Linked DNA regions of Homo sapiens. The protein of the gene in region 1 interacts with the protein of each later gene in a pairwise test. Each region holds a gene or a part of one and is shown in the gene's direction. Other genes may lie near its edges.

Region 1 (6,876 bases):
GTACTGGCCCAGTGTTTGGAGAACAGGCTGGGGGCTGGGATTGCAGGTTCTCCCAGGTCTCAGCCCGGCCAAAGGGGTCTGCTGGGTTCCTGCGGAGAAGGTGCCAGCCCCACCTCCACCTCTAGTGCTCGTCTTTGCCTGCTGTCCTGTCTTTACTTGTCTTGAGTGTCTGTGCAGCCCCTATAAGTGATAAGACATGGGTGAGATTGGCCTTGCCTGGGGGTACCAGGTGCCCTCAGACAAATGGGTGGATAGGACAGGTGCACAGTAATGGATGATGCGGCCCCCGCACAGTGCTGAGAGAGAGTCATTCAGTCTGAATGTGGAAGGCCAGGAAGGCTTCTCAGAGGAGGTGGCTCTAGCACTGGGGCTTCAGGAAAGAGTTGGGCAGGAGGATGGCCTGGGGAGGGTACGCAAGGTTTGGGGGCTGCTGGGGCCAGGACCCCTACCCCAGGCCCTGCTCTCCCCCTTGCACTGCAGCGGAGCCCGCTCTCCTGCCTTTCTGACTCCCATCCTTCCCCACCTCCTTCTCCCCTCTGCATCACTCATCACTTGGGCAGGCCAAACCTCGCCAAGTATGAACAGGCTCTGGCAACTGGGTCTGGCAACAAAGTGCTGGAAAAACCCGGGGCACAGCCCAGCGCAGTGAGTGCCCCACACGTGGAGGCAAAGGAGTGGGCCTTTGCCCTGACCCTGAGGGCTGAGCCTGAGAGTCTGTGGGTTGTGAAATCTGTTGTGACCACCAGGCTTGTGGTGGGTGGACCCTCAGCTCTTCCTGTGAGCAACTTTGTGCTAAAGAAAGAGCACTGGAGCCGGGCGTGGTGGCTTACGCCTGTAATCCCAGCACTTTGGGAGGCCAAGGCGGGCGGATCAGGAGTTCAAGACCAGCCTGGCCAACATGGTGAAACCCTGTCTCTACTAAAAATACAAAAATTAGACGGGCGTGGTGGTGGGCACCTGTAATCCCAGTTACTCGGGAGGTTAAGGCACGAGAATTACTTGAACCCAGGAGGTGGAGGTTGCAGTGAGTGGAGATGACGCCGCTGCAAAAAAAAAAAAAAAAAAGGAGAAAAAAAACAGAAAGAGCACTGGACTTGGAGTCTAAACACAGGTTCTACTCCCGACTCACCTGTGACTGAGGGCAAGAATGCTTTCTTCTCAGAGACTCGGTGTCCCCTTTTGTAAAATGAGGCTCATTCTGTCCTTCCCCAAGGGCTTCAGGGAAACTCCAGTTAGAGCAGTGAGGTGCTAGGTAAACTCTGAGGGGCACCCTAACCGCCGTGTGAGGTCAGGAGGTCTGAATTCTCTCATCCCCTCTCCCCAGGACAAGGGCACACAACTGGTTCCGTTAAGCCCCTCTCTTGCTCAGACGCCATGGAGCTGGATCTGTCTCCACCTCATCTTAGCAGCTCTCCGGAAGACCTTTGCCCAGCCCCTGGGACCCCTCCTGGGACTCCCCGGCCCCCTGATACCCCTCTGCCTGAGGAGGTAAAGAGGTCCCAGCCTCTCCTCATCCCAACCACCGGCAGGTACGATGGGGCGTGGGGCTTGGGGGAGGTCAGTGCTGGATAATACACAGAGGCTTGCAGGCCACTGCTCCCTTCCCCACACCTCTCTCCCTTTTTCTTCTTGCCACAGGAAACTTCGAGAGGAGGAGAGGCGTGCCACCTCCCTCCCCTCTATCCCCAACCCCTTCCCTGAGCTCTGCAGTCCTCCCTCACAGAGCCCAATTCTCGGGGGCCCCTCCAGTGCAAGGGGGCTGCTCCCCCGCGATGCCAGCCGCCCCCATGTGAGTTGTCCCTCAGAAGGGAAGGGAGGGATGCACGGGTTCTGGGTCTGTGGGAGATACACAGCCGCTTCCATGGAGGCAGGGGATCTTGGTTAGGAGTCCCTGAGGGTCTAGCAGGTGCGGAAAGGGAATGAATCACCCTTTGCCTCCCCTCAAGTCGTGTGCAATTCCTGGGGCGCAGGTAGTAAAGGTGTACAGTGAGGATGGGGCCTGCAGGTCTGTGGAGGTGGCAGCAGGTGCCACAGCTCGCCACGTGTGTGAAATGCTGGTGCAGCGAGCTCACGCCTTGAGCGACGAGACCTGGGGGCTGGTGGAGTGCCACCCCCACCTAGCACTGGGTAAGTCAGGTGCATGGAACTATCCGGGCTGGGAGATGATGCCTTGCATCTTGGGCTAGGCATGTGGCTCATCCAGGAGATCTGGTTGATCTCCAATAACCCCTGCTTTTTGCCCTTGTCCCCAGAGCGGGGTTTGGAGGACCACGAGTCCGTGGTGGAAGTGCAGGCTGCCTGGCCCGTGGGCGGAGATAGCCGCTTCGTCTTCCGGAAAAACTTCGCCAAGTACGAACTGTTCAAGAGCTCCCCAGTGAGTGCATGAGGGCTGTCTGGGCGCTGGGATGCCCTGATCCTCAACCTGGATGCTGGAGCCCTGATCCCTGACACTTGTCTACCCACAGCACTCCCTGTTCCCAGAAAAAATGGTCTCCAGCTGTCTCGATGCACACACTGGTATATCCCATGAAGACCTCATCCAGGTGGGGGGACCCCCCATTTCACTGCAGATTCACGACTCCCCAGCATTGGCCAGTGCTTCTCCACCCTTAAGTCCTGTGCCTCCCCTCTATGTTGTAGAAAGAGCCAAATCACAGTCCTGTGTGACTGGGGACAGTCACTTTCCCTGCCTGAGCATCAGTTTCTTCTATTAAATGGGGGCGAGAAATGCATGTGGAGCATTTCCTTGTAAAAACCTGAGGGTGGGCTGGGCACGGTGGCTCATGCCTATAATCCCAGCACTTTGGGAGGCTGAGGCGGGAGGATTACTTAAGCCTAGAAGTTTGAGAGTTTGAGACCAGCCTGGGCAACATAATGAGACCTCGTCTCTCCAAAAAAAAAAAAAAAAAAAAAAAAAAGGCCAGGAATGGTGGCATGAGCCTGTAGTCCCAGGTGCTTGGGAGGCTGAGGTGGGAGGATCACTTGAGCTCGGGAGGTCGAGGTTGCAGTGAGCTGTGATCGTGCCACCGCACTAGCATGAGACCCTGTCTCAAAAAGAAAAAGAAAAAGAGAAACATCCTGGTGGTAGAGGGGAAGGGAGGAGGTCAGACCTGTCACTCTCCTCTGCTCTCCTCTGGCTCAGAACTTCCTGAATGCTGGCAGCTTTCCTGAGATCCAGGGCTTTCTGCAGCTGCGGGGTTCAGGACGGAAGCTTTGGAAACGCTTTTTCTGCTTCTTGCGCCGATCTGGCCTCTATTACTCCACCAAGGGCACCTCTAAGGTAAGGTCTTGAGGGTACCAGCCCCAGCCCCTCCAGTCCCTGGTCCTTTTAGAAGTTGCCCCTTCTCTGCTGGAACCTCTGAGCCCTTCTCCCCCTGGGCCCCCCAGGCCAGCCACCTCCAGTTTACCATCTCTCCCTACATCCTTGCCTAGCTCACCTGCCCAGGGAGGTAGCAGGAGAAAAGATGATCTTAGTTTAAGTCCTGGCTCTACTTCTATTTGCTGTGTGACCCTGGGTATTCCCCTGCCCCTCTCTGGTCCTGAAATCTCCCCACCTGGCTTGTGGGGGGAGGTAATAGTGGGCGGGATCTACCTGTACCAAGTCCTGCTCACTCATGCTGCTTAGGATCCGAGGCACCTGCAGTACGTGGCAGATGTGAACGAGTCCAACGTGTACGTGGTGACGCAGGGCCGCAAGCTCTACGGGATGCCCACTGACTTCGGTTTCTGTGTCAAGGTGAAGACCTGGCCAGGCCTGGCCCCTGGCCTGGGGAAGCAGGAACTGCTCAGGCCCCTGGATCCTGCCCGGGGCTTCTGAGCCCCAATTCAGACACCTAGACTCCTCTCCCTGCACCCTGGCCTGCTGGAAACTCCTGGATTCAGCTCTGCTATGTGGAGCAGGGGCAGACATGTGGTCCTAAAGGCAGATATGGGACCAGTCAATTTCCTCTCTCTGCAGCCCAACAAGCTTCGAAATGGCCACAAGGGGCTTCGGATCTTCTGCAGTGAAGATGAGCAGAGCCGCACCTGCTGGCTGGCTGCCTTCCGCCTCTTCAAGGTGAGACCCTGGGAGTGGCATGGGGGGCTGGCCTGGCCAGAGGGATCCCCAGCTCTGCCCTCAGGAAGTCTCAGGAATGAGGAGGGCATCACAGCCTTGCTCTCTGATAACCCCCAGTCCAAGCCTGAAGTTATAGGAAGTGCCCATCGAAGGCAGAAACACAGCCCTGGTCTGGGCAAGTCCTGGTCTGAGGGGGGCGTCACAGCCACGCCCCCAGGACCTCTCGACCTCAAGCTCTCTTTCTCTCCCCACCCCCAGTACGGGGTGCAGCTGTACAAGAATTACCAGCAGGCACAGTCTCGCCATCTGCATCCATCTTGTTTGGGCTCCCCACCCTTGGTGAGTGTGCCCAAGGGGATGGGAGGGTGGGTATGCAGGCCCTGTCTTACGGGTACCTGGGCCCTGTTCTGACCTCTCTCCTCTCCTTCCATCTCCAGAGAAGTGCCTCAGATAATACCCTGGTGGCCATGGACTTCTCTGGCCATGCTGGGCGTGTCATTGAGAACCCCCGGGAGGCTCTGAGTGTGGCCCTGGAGGAGGCCCAGGCCTGGAGGGTGAGGCCTGCTGTGTGTGTGTGTGTTTGTGCTGGGGACCCACTCTCTGGGTGGGATCCCTGAAATAGGAGGGAGGAAGAGAGGGCGGGGGGAGGCCCCTGGCTGGGAAGAAGTGCTCTACCTTCCTGAGGTGCTGGGTAATGCCCCCAAGCACGCCCCGACTCTCCCGTATCTCCCACTGCTCCACAGAAGAAGACAAACCACCGCCTCAGCCTGCCCATGCCAGCCTCCGGCACGAGCCTCAGTGCAGGTGGGTGACGGCCCCGAGTCCTGGGGCGGGGGCTGCCTCAACTTCTCTTTGTATTCCCAGTGGGGAGTAGATGGTATAGGGGTCCCCTCCCCAAAGTGACCGCCCATGTCCTTCCCCACCACAGCCATCCACCGCACCCAACTCTGGTTCCACGGGCGCATTTCCCGTGAGGAGAGCCAGCGGCTTATTGGACAGCAGGGCTTGGTAGACGGGTAAGGGGCAGGGCCGGGCAACAGACCCAGGGATAAGAGAGACTGGGGTCCAGGTGGCAGCCATGGTCCTTGGGTAGTAATGCTGCCCCATCTCCTGTCTTCTGGCAGCCTGTTCCTGGTCCGGGAGAGTCAGCGGAACCCCCAGGGCTTTGTCCTCTCTTTGTGCCACCTGCAGAAAGTGAAGCATTATCTCATCCTGCCGGTGAGCTTCCCTGCGTCCCCGGAGTCCTGCAATGAGACACAGGACTCCCAGCAACCTGTCCTCCTCACCAGGCCCCTCCAGAGGCTCCCTGGCCCCCAGTGCGTCTCCCTTTTCCCTGCACAAGAAGTGGGAGGCTGAGTGCGGTGGCTCACACCTGTAATCCCAGCACTTAGGACGGCCAAGGTGGGAGAATGGCTTGAGCCCAGGAGTTCGAGACCAGCCTGGGCAACACAGGGAGACCCCATCTCTACAAATAATTTAAAAATGAGCCAGGCATGGTGGTGCACACCTGTAGTCCAGCTACTCAGGAGGCTGAGGTGGGAGCATTGCTTGAGCCCAGAGGGTCAAGGCTGCAGTGAGCCATGGTGGCACCACCACACTCCAGCCTGGATGACACAGTGAGAAAACTGTCTCAAAAAAAAAAAAAGAAAGAAAAAGAAAAAGAAAAAAGAAAAGAATAAAAGGAAATGGTGGGGCCCTGGCCCAGGAGGGAGCTTCCCAAGCCTCGGGCCCCTCCCTGAACTTCCACCCCCTTTACTGTACCCCAGAGCGAGGAGGAGGGCCGCCTGTACTTCAGCATGGATGATGGCCAGACCCGCTTCACTGACCTGCTGCAGCTCGTGGAGTTCCACCAGCTGAACCGCGGCATCCTGCCGTGCTTGCTGCGCCATTGCTGCACGCGGGTGGCCCTCTGACCAGGCCGTGGACTGGCTCATGCCTCAGCCCGCCTTCAGGCTGCCCGCCGCCCCTCCACCCATCCAGTGGACTCTGGGGCGCGGCCACAGGGGACGGGATGAGGAGCGGGAGGGTTCCGCCACTCCAGTTTTCTCCTCTGCTTCTTTGCCTCCCTCAGATAGAAAACAGCCCCCACTCCAGTCCACTCCTGACCCCTCTCCTCAAGGGAAGGCCTTGGGTGGCCCCCTCTCCTTCTCCTAGCTCTGGAGGTGCTGCTCTAGGGCAGGGAATTATGGGAGAAGTGGGGGCAGCCCAGGCGGTTTCACGCCCCACACTTTGTACAGACCGAGAGGCCAGTTGATCTGCTCTGTTTTATACTAGTGACAATAAAGATTATTTTTTGATACACCTATGAGTTCTGTCTGGCAAGGCCTGGCTGGCTGAATCAAGAAGGGAACCAGAGCTGGACGTGGTGGCTCATGCCTGTAATCCCAGCACTTTGGGAGGCCAAGGTAGGAGAATTGCTTGAGTCCAGGAGTTTGAGACCAGCCTGGGCAACATGGCAAGACCCTGTCCCTACAAAAAATAAAAAAATGAGCCGGGCATGGTGGTGTGCACCTGTAGTCCCAGCTTCTCAGGAGGCTGAGGTGGGAGGATCCCTTGTTCCTTGAGCCTGGGATGTCAAGGTTGCAGTGAACTGAGATTGTGCCGCTGCACTCAGCCTGAGTGACAGAGTGAGACCCTGTCTGGAAAAAAAAAGAGGGGAGACCTGGAGAGGTGGGCACCTGTGGAGGCCTTGGTGGAAGTGTCAAATGGATCGAGGCCATGTCTCAGCCTGCCTGGATGTTCCTCAAGGGCAGGAGTGGTTATCTGAGAGTCTCCAGTGCCCACCATGCAGCTTGACACATAGTAGGCGCCCAGTCATT
Region 2 (7,892 bases), on another chromosome or scaffold:
TGTTTTAGAATATACTAAATGCCTCTTTAGCATTTTTGGGTGAAATCTGATCAAATTTTGGGTGAAATCTGATCTGATGAAATTTCACCAAATGTTCAGTAAATAAATATTGCTTATTTATTTAGAAATTATTTTGCAGTGGTGGCTTGTGATTGAGGATTTTCGAAATACTTTAAAGGAGAAAATTATGACATCAAAATGAAATAATGAGAGTAAAATCTCAGTGAAATACAGTTTCCTAAACCAATCACTTTTTTCTTTTGTACTAAATCGATCTTTCCTAAACCAATCACAATGAGCATTAAGAATGGTTTTCAGAATATTCAGGACCCATCATCTATGGTGTAAATTGGTCCCAATTTCATACTCTTAAACCTCAAGCTTTTTGGAGTAAAGTCAAAACTCAACAAAATGGAGGTTTCTTTTCTCCTTTTCTTTCTTTTCTTTTCTCCTTCCTTCCTTCCTTCTTTTTCTTTCTTTTTGTGACAGGTATTGTTTTATTGCCCAGGCTGAAGAGCAGTGGCTCAATCTCAGTTGACTGCAACCTCAGGGTTCAAGCGATTCTTCTGCCCAGTCCCCTGAGTGACTGGGATTACAGGCGTGTGCCACTACTCATGGCTGGTTTTTGTATTTTTAGTAGAGATGGGGTTTCCCCATATTGGCCGGGCTGGTCTCCAACCTGATCTACCAGCCTTGGCATCCCAAAGTGCTGGGATTATAGGTGTGAGCCACCATTTCTGGCCTCTCTGAGGTTCATTTTTCTATACAAAAGAAAAGGGTAGGATGTAGTGCCCTGTGAGTTATGCATGCATCTGACAATTTTACCTACAGATCTGAGAGCTCTCTTTGTGCCTCAGGTTCTATTTTTGTCTTATGCAAAATAAAGCCTATTCTACTCTAGACAGAAGTGTATCATTGAGTCACAACCTGAGTCAAATTTTGCTTTGGTCTTTGTTTCTCAGGGCATAAGATGAAGAAGTTTGAATCATACCTTTCCTAATTTCCTTCCTTCAGGAAATTGGTCTCAGACATCACACAAGCCTTCCAGAAAGAAAGAATCCATCTGCCTCTTCTGTCTGAACTAATGTGTAGACCCCATTGCCACAGGCTGCAGCCCCAGCTTCTGTAGGCCCTGTCTCTGCCTTTCCTAGGAAGAAACCAAAATTCCTACCTGCTGCCCACATGCTGGGAACTGTCACAGCAGGAGGACTTCAAAACCAATATTCTTCTGAAGAATCTAGTGTCCGTTGCCAGAAAAGCCAGTCTCTGGCAATTCCTGAGCCCTAATGAACAAATGCGTGGGATCCACAGGGAGACAAAGAAGATATTTGGAGAGGTGGAAAAAGAGCCTGATTCATTTGCTGTGCTGGAACTCTCAGGAGCATGGGGTTCACACACACTGTGAGGGGCAGCTAAGGAACACTGGGTAAGTGATGGCTCTGAGAGCACTTTGAAAGCTGGAGGATGGCACAGGTAAAGAGATTAGGGGAAGATGAAGAGCATGATGATTAATCTGCTCTGTACTGGATGTCGTGTAGTGCCTAGGTATCAATGATAAAATAATAAATATAATCTGAGTGTGCTTTCCTTCCTGGAGCTTACATTTCACTGAGGGAGTGATGAAGTTAATAATCATTGTAATAATTTGACTACTTGATGCAGTGTTCAAGGCACTGTAAAGAGCTCAATATCAGAAGAGTTTCTGGCTATCCAAACTACAAGTTAAAAAGTCTTTTCTATAAGAAACCTATTTACCAACACTGGAAATAATAGAATAAAACACGTTAGAATTAGCAGGGCACGGTGTCAGTAGATTCCAATTCTGATGCAAGGTGCCACATTATCTGTAAATTAGCCCTGCCTATGATTTTCCTATTAAACTTGCTGCGTTACACGTTGTGGTTCTACAGTCCGAGATCTTCCCAAATCTCTTTCATATCTCATCCCTTGATTTCTTTATCACTGGGGGTCTGAAACCTAAAATGATTTGCTTCTCTGATGTTCACATTCATAGTTCTTTTACAGGAGAAGATTATGAAGCAAATGAGATGTTTGTGGGCAAAAATTCAAGAAAACCAAAGAAATTTAAATGAGGAAAGCAGGAAAACCAACCAGTGGATTGCAAGTATTAGGCCTTTTCCCTCAGAGTTAGCCTCAGACAGACATGCTAGAAATGTATCCACTTATCACTTGAATGGAAATCATCTTGGTAGATTTGAGGAAGATTTTTCTCATGGCTTCCAATCCTGAGGGTACAATGCAGCATTGATTAATGCTCAGGGAGAGTGGTCAAGCTATGGAGTAGGAAGACCTGGTACTAAAAACTAATTTAAAAACACAGAGATCATAACACTGCAAAAAATTATTTGTGAATCAACCATAAATTCCAATGGCTCTCATGTAGGCTTTCAGATATCAATGGATATATATTGAAGAAACGATCAATAATAACCTTTCTTCAGGTGTTTTAGGAAGTCATATAATGAATGAAAGTGGTTTGAGGAACGAATGAATTTGGCTTTCAGTATTATTAAGAAACAATACAAATAAATGAAAGGAAGACAGGAATGATCTATTTCATGGTTCTGTCAAGTGGGAAGACACGAGTTTATGTACTTAGCTTATTGGTAGAATACATGAGTCAGGCTAGGCTCAGTGGTTCATGTCTGTAATCCCAATACTTTGGGAAGACCACTTGAGACCAGGAGTTTCAAACCAGCCTGGCCATCAACATAGTGAGACCCTGATCTTTATTATACAGAAAAGATGAAAGAGATAAAGAAAAGGAAATGAGTCAAAGTGAATAGAAGAGGTATAAGTGGAGGAGGATGAATTCAGAGTAAATATGTCATCTAGGAAATCTAGGTCCCTGCAGTGCTATGTGTAGCTATGGGCAGAGATGACTACAGCTGAGTAGAGGAAGCTGCATTCAGTTCCCCATGAGAAGTAAAACAACACTTAGAGAAACTTACAACCATGATGACAGAAAGATTTTACAGCAACTTAAGAAAAGCAAAAAGACAAAATGGTTCAGAAAAAAAAAACACCTAAGAAAAATCTATAAGGAGCTGATAAAAATGTGCCATAAACTAGATATGGAGCTGCTCCAGGAAAGAACCAATAATATGCCTAAAAAAATTTTGTAGTATTTGAAGTTCATACCTTACAACAAGCTTGCCCAACCCACGGTCCGTGCGGCCAAGGACGGCTTTGAATGTGGCCCAACACAAATTCCTAACCTTTCTTGAAACATGAAGAGATTTTTGTTTGTCATTTTATTAAAGCTCATCAGCTATAGTTAATCTTAGTGTATTTCATGTGTGGCCCAAGACAATTCTATTTCTAATGAGGCCCAGGGAAGCCAAAAGATTGCACACCCCTGGCTTAGGTGATATTATTTATTCAACACCATAGATATGTGTGTGTGTGGGGGGTATATATATATGTATATGTGTGTATACATACATATATGTACCATATATATCATATATGTATCTCCTGCTTCTAAGAGGGAGGAACTTTTCCAAATAGAAATAACATAGGTGAAATGTAATTCTTATCCTAACCATGAACAAGCAAGCTTTTTTGGAATCTTTGAGTGGATGTAATTTTATATTCCCCTTTATCAAACACTGACCACAGGGAATATTCCCCTCTAATAAGCTTCTTTTGTAGCTTTTTTCTGAAAAACTGGACAAATGTAATGTGGGAGTCAGACAGCATGTGTCACTAAGCTGAGAGCAGTGACATATGCAGGTGACATTCGCATGTCCTGGCAGCATTGTCCAGCAAAGTCTTCCTTTCTTTGGGGATGGACCCTCCCTCCTCACCTGGAGCAGCTCCACGTCAGGCATGAGGCACGTCTCCCACAGCTCTCTGTACATGTCTTTCATCCTTTCTAAATGTTGGGTCATTCTCACTTGACTGTCTTGTAGTTGTTGGAAAAGCTATTTGGCTTCGCTGTCCAGTGCCTGCAGATGAAGTTGCTTCTCCTCATCGAGAAATAGATGCATCTTTTGATATTGAATATTGATTATCACCTTACTTAATGACACATAGTTCTGCGGAGACATTTGGTTAAAAGGATTACATACTCTCACTCTCAACAGAAAACTTCAAATAATTATATGCTGGGTGTAATCAAGCAATCTATAAACTTTCTGCCTCACTCTTGCAAGGAGTCTTGAATATTTGTTATTTCTTTCTGTCCTTCTTTTTCAATGTTCCTATTCTCTCTCCCTCTTTAAATCAAAACCTATATAAAGACTTCTAGTTTCTCTTCCTGAGATGCTTCTTCACAGTTCTTACTGAGTCAACTATCTCCTCTATTAATCTCCCTTTTAGGATTTTTCCATGTCTGATTCGCCTAAATATTAAAAAACATTTAGCCATACACCATATTATGCAGATTGATTTTTCCTTTTACTGTATTTTTACTCTATATACTATTTTATATACTATTCTATTTCTTTCCTCTTCCTTACACCCAATCTTGGTGAAATGTCTCATCTCCAGTGTCTGAAAAGGTTTATACCAACCTTCAAATTTGAACTAGAATACATATCATACCATTTATCCAATAAACTAGAATTAATTTGGTTAGCTTGTGTGGGCTTCTCTATTTGCAATTCCTATTATATCAATTATATCAAACCCCCTCTCTACTAAAAATGCAAGAAAAAAACTAGCCAGCGACAGAGCCAGACTCCTTTCAAAAAAAATAAATAAATAAAGATAAAACTTCTGTTCTGAAGAAACTTAATCATCTATGTTAACACCCACCTACGCCCTGTGAAATGCAATCAATTGGAAGAAAGGGGTGTGGTCTTCAGAGATTTATAAACCGACACTTCAGGAGCCAAGCTCATTCTTCTCCAGAGCCCACAGAGTAGCTTTGCAACTGGCTTTGGGGACTTCCGAAAGCTACCAGCACTGCACTGTGAGACTCTCATCCCTGAGCTGAATTCATCTGATTCGACGGCAAGCTTTGGTGAGAACATAGATATATTTCTGAGGTAAGTACACAATTTCCAGAGTAGGAGCTACTATTAGGAGCTACAAACCAAAACAAAATTTGGGGACTTTAATTTATCTGCAAACTTAGATTATTTTTAGATGAAATGATCTCATTTTCTGAGTTTTAAAAACGGCTCCATTTCTTTTTTAAAATTATTTTAAACATAATCCATAGGTTTATGGATTAAACATGGGCCACCATGTTCAGCTATTTATTTATTTGTTTATTTATTTATTTTGAGATGGAATCACGCTCTATTGCCAGGCTGGAGTGCAGCGGCGCTCTTGGCTCACTGCAACCTCCGCCTTCCAGGTTCAAACGATTCTTCAGCCTCGGCCTCCAGAGTAGCTGGAAATATAGCCGCCTGCCACCACGCCCAGCTAATTTTTGTATTTTTTTTTAGTAGAGACGGGATTTCACTATGTTGGCCAGGATGGTCTCCATCTCTTGATCTTGTGATCCGTTCACCTCCGCCTCTGAAAGTGTTGGGATTACAGGCCTGAGCCACCGCGCCCGGCCTTTTTTTTTTAAATTTATATAAGTATTTTTAGAGACAGGATGATCTAGACACTTTGCCGTGTCACCAGTCTAGAGTTCCTGAGCTCAAAAAACCTGCCTGACGGCCTCCCAAAATGCTGGGATTACAGGCTTGAGTCACCTTCCCTGGCTTGGTTTTTATTTTTATTTGTATTTTAGCAAAACATACATTTAAAACGCTGACTTACTGTCTAGTGCCTAGTTTTTGTTTTTTTTTTTTAGAGGGGAGACAGAGTCTTGCTCTGTTACCCAGACTGGAGTGCTGTGGCACTATCTCGGCTCACTGCAAGCTCCGCCTGCCGGGTTCACGCCATTCTCCAGCCTCCGCCTCCAGAGTAGCTGGGACTACAGGCGTCCTCCACCACTCCCGGCTAATTTTTTGTATTTTTTAGTAGAGTTAGGGATTCACCATGTTAGCCAGGATGGTCTTGAGCTCGTGACATCGTGATCTGCCTGCCTCAGCCACCTCGGCCTCCCAAAGTGCTCGGATTACAGGCGTGAGCCACCGTGCCCGGCCTCTAGTGCCTGTTATTGCATGATACTTACTCTTTTCCTGACTGTGTGAAAGAGTAATGATAATGCTTCAATTATCATTATCTTTTTGTAAATTGAATTAATTGTCTTTTAAGGATGTTGTAATATTAACTAGTATATCCCCAAATTAACAGACTGTCCAGGAACAGTAAACATGCCAGAAAGTTTTTGTTGATTAAATTAACATAGTAGCCTAGAAAAACAATGATTCTTAGCTTTACCTTGGAGAGGTGCCTTACCTTGATTTGACTGTTTTTCCTTGGAGAGTAAAGGCTAGCTTTTTCTGATTTGGGTCAAAGTATGAGTTCTGCTCTAACATTTTCAAGCAATGTCCTTCTGGAAAAGTCATTATGGATGGTTGTTATAGTTAAATAAAATAATGAGAGTAGAAGAGCTTAGTTAGCTTTCCTTCTTTAAACCAATCACTGGCAATTAAGAGTGTTACTGATTTTCAGACCATTCAAGACTCAAACCTTGAGTTTACAGGTTGATGAAACCCTTGAAGCCCAAGCAATTTGGTGGATACTAACACCTCAAAAAATCCGACATTCTTCCATGCAAGAAAGTAGAGTTTGGAAAGCTGGTCATGTGTTGATTGGAGAACAGTCACTTTTTATAGAGGTTGATGTCTCTTTGTGCCTTAGTTTTCTGTTTTTCCTATTTCTGTCATTGCAGATTAAAGCCTATACTTCTTTAGAAAGAAAGGATATTATTCGATCACGATCTGATTCAAACTTTGCTTGGATCTTTGTCTCTCCAGGGTAGAAGATTAAATTCCTGTGGTTTTCTTTCCTTAGGAAAATGGACTCAGACTTCTCACATGCCTTCCAGAAGGAACTCACCTGCGTCATCTGTTTGAACTACCTGGTAGACCCTGTCACCATCTGCTGTGGGCACAGCTTCTGTAGGCCCTGTCTCTGCCTTTCGTGGGAGGAAGCCCAAAGTCCTGCAAACTGCCCTGCATGCAGGGAACCATCACCGAAAATGGACTTCAAAACCAATATTCTTCTGAAGAATTTAGTGACCATTGCCAGAAAAGCCAGTCTCTGGCAATTCCTGAGCTCTGAGAAACAAATATGTGGGACCCATAGGCAAACAAAGAAGATGTTCTGTGACATGGACAAGAGTCTCCTCTGCTTGCTGTGCTCCAACTCTCAGGAGCACGGGGCTCACAAACACCATCCCATCGAAGAGGCAGCTGAGGAACACCGGGTAAGAGATAGCTCTGTGATCACCTGAAAGCTGGAGGGTGGCAGAGTTAAAGATATTAGAAGGATGATGAGAATCATGGTGATTACTCCATTCTTTACTGAGTGCCAGGTGCTGTTCTAGGTACCAATGATGACATTTTGAATAAAATGTGCAACTCTACCTTCCTTCATGGAGCTTGCACCCAAAAAGAGACTGATTAAGTAAATGTCATTATTATTGACTCTACAGTTCAATGCTAATGACATTGAAAAGCTACCAAAACTACCAGTGCAAAGAAAGGTATTTTGGAAATATATTTAATATTACTGGACAAATGAGTATGGGAGTAGCACACTACAAAATCAGGGGCTAGCATAGTGGGTTCTGAAGCAGGATGTTTCCCTGAACTAATTTAGCTGGGTTACAGGAAATCTTCACTCTTCAGTTCCCTAAGCTGTTCTACATTCTGAAACCTCAAACTGAAAAATATCAATTAAGGATGAGCAATGAAAAATTTTGTTTTTTTCTCCTCTCACTAATGTATTTATATATTATCCCTTGCCTGTGTATACCACTCAGATTGTGGAATCTTTGGCATTTGACTTTCTGTTGT
Region 3 (7,068 bases), on another chromosome or scaffold:
TGAGTGACAGAGCAAGACTCCGTCTCAAAAAAAAAAAAAACAAAAAAACACAAAAATAACAGTCTAGGCCAGGTGTGGTGGCTCATGCCTGTAATCCCAGCAAGTTGGGAGGCTGAGGCAGGCAGATCACAAGGTCAGGGGTTCGAGACCAGCCTGGCCAACATGGCAAAACCCCATCTCTACTAAAAACACATAAATTAGCTGGGCGTGGTGGCGAGCGCTTGTAATCCTAGCTACTCAGGAGGCTGAGGCAGGATAATCACTTGAACCCGGGAGGCAGAGGTTGCAGTGAGCCGAGATCATGCCATTGCACTCAAGCCTGAGCGACGAGCAAGACTCCATCTCAAAAAATAAATAAATAGGCTGGACCTGGTAGCTCACACCTGTAATCCCAACACTTTGGGAGGCCAAAGCAGGTGGATCACAAGGTCAGGAGTTGGAGACCAGCCTGGCCAATATGGTAAAACCCCGTCTTTTCTAAAAAAAAAAAAAAATACAAAAATTAGCCGAGCATGGTGGCGCACACCTGTAGTCCCAGCTACTCGGGAGGCTGAGGCAGAAGAATCGCTTGAACCCAGGAGGCAGAGGTTACAGTGAGCTGAGATCATGCCACTGCACTCCAGCCTGGGCGAAAGAGCGAGACACCTTCTCAAAAATAAATAAATAAATAAATGTTTGTTTGTTTGTTTGTTTGTTTTTGAGGGGAGTTTTGCTCGTTGCTCAGGCTAGAGTGCAATGGTGCGACCTCGGCTCACTGCAACCTCTGCCTCCCGGGTTCAAGCAATTCTGCTTCAGCCTCCTGAATAGCTGGGATTACAGTCAGGCACAACCACGCCTGGCTAATTTTTTGTATTTTTAGTAGAGATGGAGTTTCTCCATGTTAGTCAGGCTGGTCTCAAACTTCTGACCTCAAGTGATTCAGCCACCTCGGCCTTCCAACTTGCCGGGATTACAGGCGTGAGCCACTGCACCTGGCCAAAAAACAGTCTTAATACTTTAGAATCCTGTCAGAGGCGTATGAACCAGAGCAACTCCATCTCGAATAGGGGCTGGGTAAAATGAGGCTGAGACCTATTGGGCTGCATTCCCAGACAGTTAAGGCATTCTAAGTCACAGAATGAGATAGGAGGTTGGCACAAGATATAGGACATAAAGACCTTGCTGATAAAACAGGCTGTAGTAAAGAAGCCGGCTAACACCCACCAAAACCAACATGGCCATGAGAATGTCCTCTGGTCATCCTCACTGCCACACTCCCATCAGCACCATGACCGTTTACAAATGCCATGGAACAACAGGAAGTTAGTCTATATGGTCTAAAAAGGGGAGGCATGAATAATCCAGCCCGTGTTTAGCATATCATCAAGAAATAACCATAAAAATGGGCAACCAGTAGCCCTTGAGGCTGCTCTGTCCGTGAAGCAGCCATTCTTTTATTCCTTTACTTTCCTAATAAAGTTGCTTTCACTTTACTCTATGGACTCGCCCTGAATACTTCCTTGGGCAAGATCCAAGAACCCTCTCTTGGGGTCTGCATCAGGACCCCTTCCCTGTAACACCTTTCTGGCAACCACTGAAGGGACTATAGTGCAGAAACCCCCAACCCAAAGGCTAACTCTGGGTAAGTGTTGGGGTCTGGTAACAATCATATGTAACATCCGACCCCAAAAAATCATGAAAAGTGGTTAAAACACTAGAGCAGGCTGGGTGCAGTGGCTCACACCTATAATCGCAGAATTTTGGGAGGCCAGGGTGGGCAGATCACTTGAGCCCAGGAGTTTGGACCAGCCTGGCTAACATGCTGAAACCTCATTTCTACTAAAAATACAAAAATTAGCCATGTGTGGTGGCGTGTACCTGTAGTCCCAGCTACTTGGGAGACTGAGGCAGGAGAATGGCTTGAGCCTGGGAGGCATAGGTTGTAGTGAGCAAGAGCATGCCACTGCACTTCAGCCTGGGCAACAGGAGTGAAACCCTGTCTCAGAAAAAAACAACATCAACAACACGAGAGCAATCGGATTTAAAACATACACTCCTTGGCCAGGTGCGGTGGCTCATGCTGTAATCCCAGCACTTTGGGAGGCCAAGGCGGGCGGATCACCTGAGGTCAGTAGTTGGAGACCAGCCTGACCAACATGGAGAAACCCCGTCTCTACTAAAAATACAAAATTAGCTGGGTGTGGCGGTGCATGCCTGTAATGCCAGCTACTCGGGAGGCTGAGACAGGAGAATTGCTTGAACCCGGGAGGCGGAGGTTTCGGTGAGCCAAGATCATGCCATTGCACTCCAGCCTGGGCAACAAGAGCAAAACTCTATCTCAAAAAAACAACAACAACAACAAAATACACCCCATTTCCCAGGAACGAGTGTTTTTTGTTGTTGCTGTTGTTTTTTCCCCGCTATTATGATGAATCATTTCAGCTACCTACTTTTTGTTTTAGTTTGTCAGTTTGATTGGATTTTGCCCCATGGGGAAGGAAAGGAGAGCAGGATGAGGGGCACAGCCAAGGCCTGGAATCCTGGCACTCACCTGCAGTCTGAGGCAGGTAACTTGGGCAGCTGCCTCTGAGGTGGTGATTTCCCTGAGATGTGGGGGCAGGAGAGAATTGGACAACCAGAGGGAAGATTGGTCTAACTGCAGCAGATTGGGTAGATAAGATAAGTGAGGCCCTGAAATGATCACATGCAATGGAAAAGTTCTTTAAAAAAAAAAAAAATTTTTTTTTTTTAATTAGCAGTCATGGTTCTGAGGTTTGGTTCCATGTGCCCTTTCCGTGTACTGCCTTCCGAGGTCCTGATTCTCACAGTCCCTTATTGGTTCCAATGGCCCAGGACCCCAGTCCTTGCCACCAGCATGATGGATCTTGTGAGTAGTCCTAGTTCCTACTCAGACCTGATCCAAAGGAGAAGTGGGCAGAGACCCAGGTTCCAGCTCCAGCACCAGCTGCCTCTGAGCCATTTCTGCTTCCTACCAGGTGAAGCTCCTGGGAGGGAAGGGGCCCAGGACCTGGAATGATAAAGCTCCCTGGAAAGCCAGCCATGGCCAGTCTGCAGCCCCTGGGGACTCTGTGAGAGTCTGGATGCAGACAGGCCAGGGGCTGCCACCTCAGGAAAGCTGAGGACCTCAATGTCCACTGGGAAGAGATGGGAGGGAGGCATGGTTCTAGGAGGGTACTGCTGGTCTGCCCTTCCATTCATCTGGGAATCCATTTCCTTGTGGAAAGTGCAATCAGAGAGGTTCTTCACATCCTTACAACAGTCTTAGTGGCCCCTTCTCTTTGGACTCTCCCAAGATGCAAAGAGTGTTTCCGGAGATTAGTAGGCTCAAGAAGGGAGGGGAGTTAGCAATAAATTTTGAACAATCTTCAAACACTTTGGGTAGCTCTTAAGGATGAACTTGTTCAGCTTCTGAGACAGGTGTGTGACAAGTAAGACTGTGACTGATCTTCAGAAGAGCCCTGAGAACAGGAGATCACCAGCAGCCAGGAGCTGTGGAAGGTTGCCTTGGGGGAGCAGGGGTCCTGCTAACCCAGCATAACTTCTATTCTTAAGGTAGTACCCAGAGCAGAGGTTCCCAAAACATGAAACACAGATGAGCTCCATCAAAATCACCTGAAAGCTCCATCAAATTCACCTGGAAAGCATCGATAGCCAAAGCCTGCCCCCTCTGCAGCCTCCACCCACTGAATCAGAAGAGGGTCCCGGAGATCTGCATTTCACTCTAAAAGGCAACCTCCAGTGCTCCTTAGACTTGCTTAGAAAATACTGTAAATCTGAAGACTTATACAACTCTAAGTGTCTCAGAAACTCAGGGTGAAGAATCACAAGTTCTCTACTACCCTGCCCCATTTTTAATCACACTCATCACAGACCACAGAGCACCTGGCAAACCCAGGAACGGTGGGTTGAAGATATGTTTTCTTCTAGCAGATTAAGAGCTGAGCAGAGTTTCCTGTGCCCTGTGCTTCATTAGCACATTGGTGGTGTCGTTTCCGGTGACTGACTCTCTGTTTCCATTCTGGCAAAGTGGTTTGCTCTTTTCACTCTGCTTTGGGTGTTGAAGGAAGACGAGCTTCTCACGGAGCCTCTCTTGAGCCTCTTGGCAGTTTCCCCCTCTGTGCCCCTCACGTTTCCACCAGAAACGTGAAGGCAGAGGCCACAGATTCTCCCTGAGCCACCTCACTTGGAAGCACCATGTCCGGATGAGATCGCACTTCCTGCAGTGGGCATTAGCCACGTCCAGGTAGAACCAAACCTGTTGCTTTTGTATGTTGGGTCAACTTGGCCTGACGTTTCAGAGGTAGACACGAGATAGGGAGTTTGTTGCGGGGGTGGGGAGAAGTGGTAGACATGCTGGCTAACTGATTATGATTAAGAGAAACTTAGAAGCTGAAGCCAGAGAGCATCTCAAAGGTTCCTGATACAATGGATGGTGTCACTCCAACCCTTTCGACAATCAGAGGGAGGACCTTGGAGTCCAGCACTCTGCATGTGACTCCCCGCAGCCTGGACAGGTGAGTGACTCAGGGTGGTGAGCTCCACCCTGCCCTGATTTAGGCAGAAGGTCCTAGTCCACCCTTAGGAGCTTCTTACACAGCAGTGCTGCCACCTCTCAACACCCAGGCTCGGTCTACTAAACCACCAAACTCTAGGCTTGGAGGCATTTGCTCAGGGGTGCTAGGGGGAAAGGAAGGTATTGAGGAAAGAAAGAAAATATTGTGGTAGAGGAAAAACTGTGATAACACTGGCCCTTAAAGCTAGTTGCTTAGACTGGTTGGATTTCTCACCTCTCGGAGGCCCTGAACCCTATCATCAGTCTTTCCTAGGTGTCACCATGACAGAAACAAAAGGCTGAGTTTTCCAAGGATGTGTTTTGAGATCCAAAAACTTGTCATGAATAAAAAATGTAGTGATAGATGTAATAAAGATACGTCCTTAGGACGTAAAATCTTACAGAACTAATCATGGGTATGAATTACTGCTACTACTTTCAATCTCATACAAACAAAATTAAAAATCCATCCACAGTTGAAACTTTAAAAACATTGGCAGCTGACTGGGCGCGGTGGCTCACACCTGTAACCCCAGCACTTTGGGAGGCCGAGTGGGGCGGATCACCCCCACTCTTGAACCAGCCTGGCCAAGACCAGCCTGGCCAACATGGTGAAACCCCGTTTCTACTAAAAATACAAAAATTAGCCGGGAGTGGTAGCATGCTCCTGTAGTCCCAGCTACTCAGGAGGCTGAGGCAGGAGAATCACTTGAACCCGGGAAACAGAGGTTGCAGTGTCATGTCATTGTACTCCAGCCTGGGCAACAAAAGCGAAACTCTGTCTCAAAAAATAAAATAAAATTGCAGTCGTTTGGGGAAATAAATGTTATTATCATGGCAAACACATGTCACTTGCTGGTAGATATGAGCATCAATGAGCAATGAATCAGAAGCCTGAAGCATCTCTCCAAAACTATTTCTTCATTTATTTTTATTTATTTCTAATTGGCAAATCAAAATTATATATATTTATCATGATAGCCTGTTGTTTTGAAATATGTATACATTGTACAATAGCTACATTAAACTAATTAAGATACACATTACTTCACAATTTTCTTTTGTGGTGAGAATACTTAAAATTTCTCAGCAATTTTCAAGAATATGACACATTTTTATTAACTATAGTCATCAACACTTTTTTTGTTTTGTTTTGTTTGTTTTTTTTATTTTTATTTTTTTAGACAGAGTCTCGCTCTGTCGCCCAGGCTGGAGTGCAGTGGCGTGATCTCGGCTCACTGCAGCCTCCACCTCCCAGGTTCAAGCTATTCTCCTGCTTCAGCCTCCTGAGTAGCTGGGATTGCAGGCATGTGCCACCACCCGCGGCTAACTTTTTTTTGTATTTTTAGTAGAGATGGGGTTTCTTCATGTTGGTCAGGCTGGTCTCGAACTCCCTACCTTAGGTGATCCGCCCACCTCTGTCTCCCAAAGTGCTGGGATTACAGGCATGAGCCACCGGGTCTGGACCATCAACACATTTTTATTAACTATAGGCATCATGTTATACAACAGATCCCTTGAATTTTTCTTTCTCTCTAACTGATATTTTGTACCCTTTGACCAACATCTCTGCAACCCCTCCCTGGTAACCACCATTCTACTCTCCACTTCTTTTTTTTTTTTTTTTTTTTTGAGACAAAGTTTCACTCTTGTTGCCCAGGCTGGAGTGCAAGGTTGCAATCTAGGGTCACTGCAACCTCCACCTCCCAGGTTCAAGCGATTCTCCTGCCTCAGCCTCCCCAGTAAATGGGATTACAGGCATGAGCCACCATGCCTGGCTAATTTTGTATTTTTAGTAGAGTTGGGGGTTTCTCCATGTTGGTCAGGCTGGTCTCGAACTCCTTACCTCAGGTGATCCGCCCACCTCCGCCTCCCAAAGTGCTGGGATTACAGACATGAGCCACCATGCCCCGCCTTGGTAGTTCTATTTTTAATTTTTGAAGAACCTCCATAGTGTTTTCCATAATGGCTGTACTACACTTAAAACTATTTCTATATTAATTCATTTGTTTATTAATTCATTCATTTAACAAATATTTATCAGGGCCCTACTAAGTACCAAGCACTGTTTAAGGCACTAGGTGAACAGGATAAACAAGTCCATAACCTCCTGAAGATTATAGACAAGTGGGAGAGTCAAATAATGAACAGAGCTGAGCGTGGTGGCTCATGCCTATAATCCAAGCCTTTGGTAGACCAAGGCAGGAGGATCAATTGAGCCCAGGAGTTCAAAACCAGCCTGAGCAACACATGGAGACCCTGTCTCAAAATTTTTTTTTTTTAAATAAAAAAATGATAAACAGATAAGCATATGAATGTATAATATCAATCAATCGGGCTGGGTGAGGTGGCTCACGCCTGTAATCCCAGCACTTTGGGAGGCCAAGGTGGGCAGATCACCCAAAGTCAGGAGTTCGAGACCAGCCTGACGAATATGATGAAACCCCATCTCTACTAAAAATACAAAAATTAGCCAGGCGTGGTGGTGCGTACCTGTAGTCCCAGCTACTCGGGAG

Evidence for each region. The genes of interacting proteins can lie anywhere in the genome.
Region 2: the proteins of GRB7 (region 1) and TRIM43 interact in binary tests that used the Homo sapiens proteins (3 or more experiments, as listed by UniProt).
Region 3: the proteins of GRB7 (region 1) and LAX1 interact in binary tests that used the Homo sapiens proteins (3 or more experiments, as listed by UniProt).

The regions. Positions count from the first base shown.
Region 1 is NC_000017.11:39,740,928-39,747,803, forward strand, and holds the end of GRB7 (growth factor receptor-bound protein 7), read left to right. Parts: intron 1-1,324; coding exon of another isoform or gene 1,325-1,374; coding exon 1,375-1,529; intron 1,530-1,638; coding exon 1,639-1,789; intron 1,790-1,970; coding exon 1,971-2,127; intron 2,128-2,252; coding exon 2,253-2,374; intron 2,375-2,465; coding exon 2,466-2,543; intron 2,544-3,142; coding exon 3,143-3,280; intron 3,281-3,625; coding exon 3,626-3,736; intron 3,737-3,958; coding exon 3,959-4,057; intron 4,058-4,174; coding exon of another isoform or gene 4,175-4,315; coding exon 4,316-4,396; intron 4,397-4,494; coding exon 4,495-4,611; intron 4,612-4,800; coding exon 4,801-4,861; intron 4,862-4,985; coding exon 4,986-5,073; intron 5,074-5,181; coding exon 5,182-5,275; intron 5,276-5,823; coding exon 5,824-5,970; 3' UTR 5,971-6,358; downstream 6,359-6,876. UniProt on the Homo sapiens protein: Adapter protein that interacts with the cytoplasmic domain of numerous receptor kinases and modulates down-stream signaling. Promotes activation of down-stream protein kinases, including STAT3, AKT1, MAPK1 and/or MAPK3. Promotes activation of HRAS.
Region 2 is NC_000002.12:95,587,135-95,595,026, forward strand, and holds the start of TRIM43 (tripartite motif-containing protein 43), read left to right. Parts: upstream 1-4,866; 5' UTR 4,867-5,015; intron 5,016-6,885; 5' UTR 6,886-6,889; coding exon 6,890-7,300; intron 7,301-7,892.
Region 3 is NC_000001.11:203,761,141-203,768,208, forward strand, and holds the start of LAX1 (lymphocyte transmembrane adapter 1), read left to right. Parts: upstream 1-4,042; 5' UTR 4,043-4,202; coding exon of another isoform or gene 4,203-4,243; 5' UTR 4,244-4,425; coding exon 4,426-4,514; intron 4,515-7,068. UniProt on the Homo sapiens protein: Negatively regulates TCR (T-cell antigen receptor)-mediated signaling in T-cells and BCR (B-cell antigen receptor)-mediated signaling in B-cells.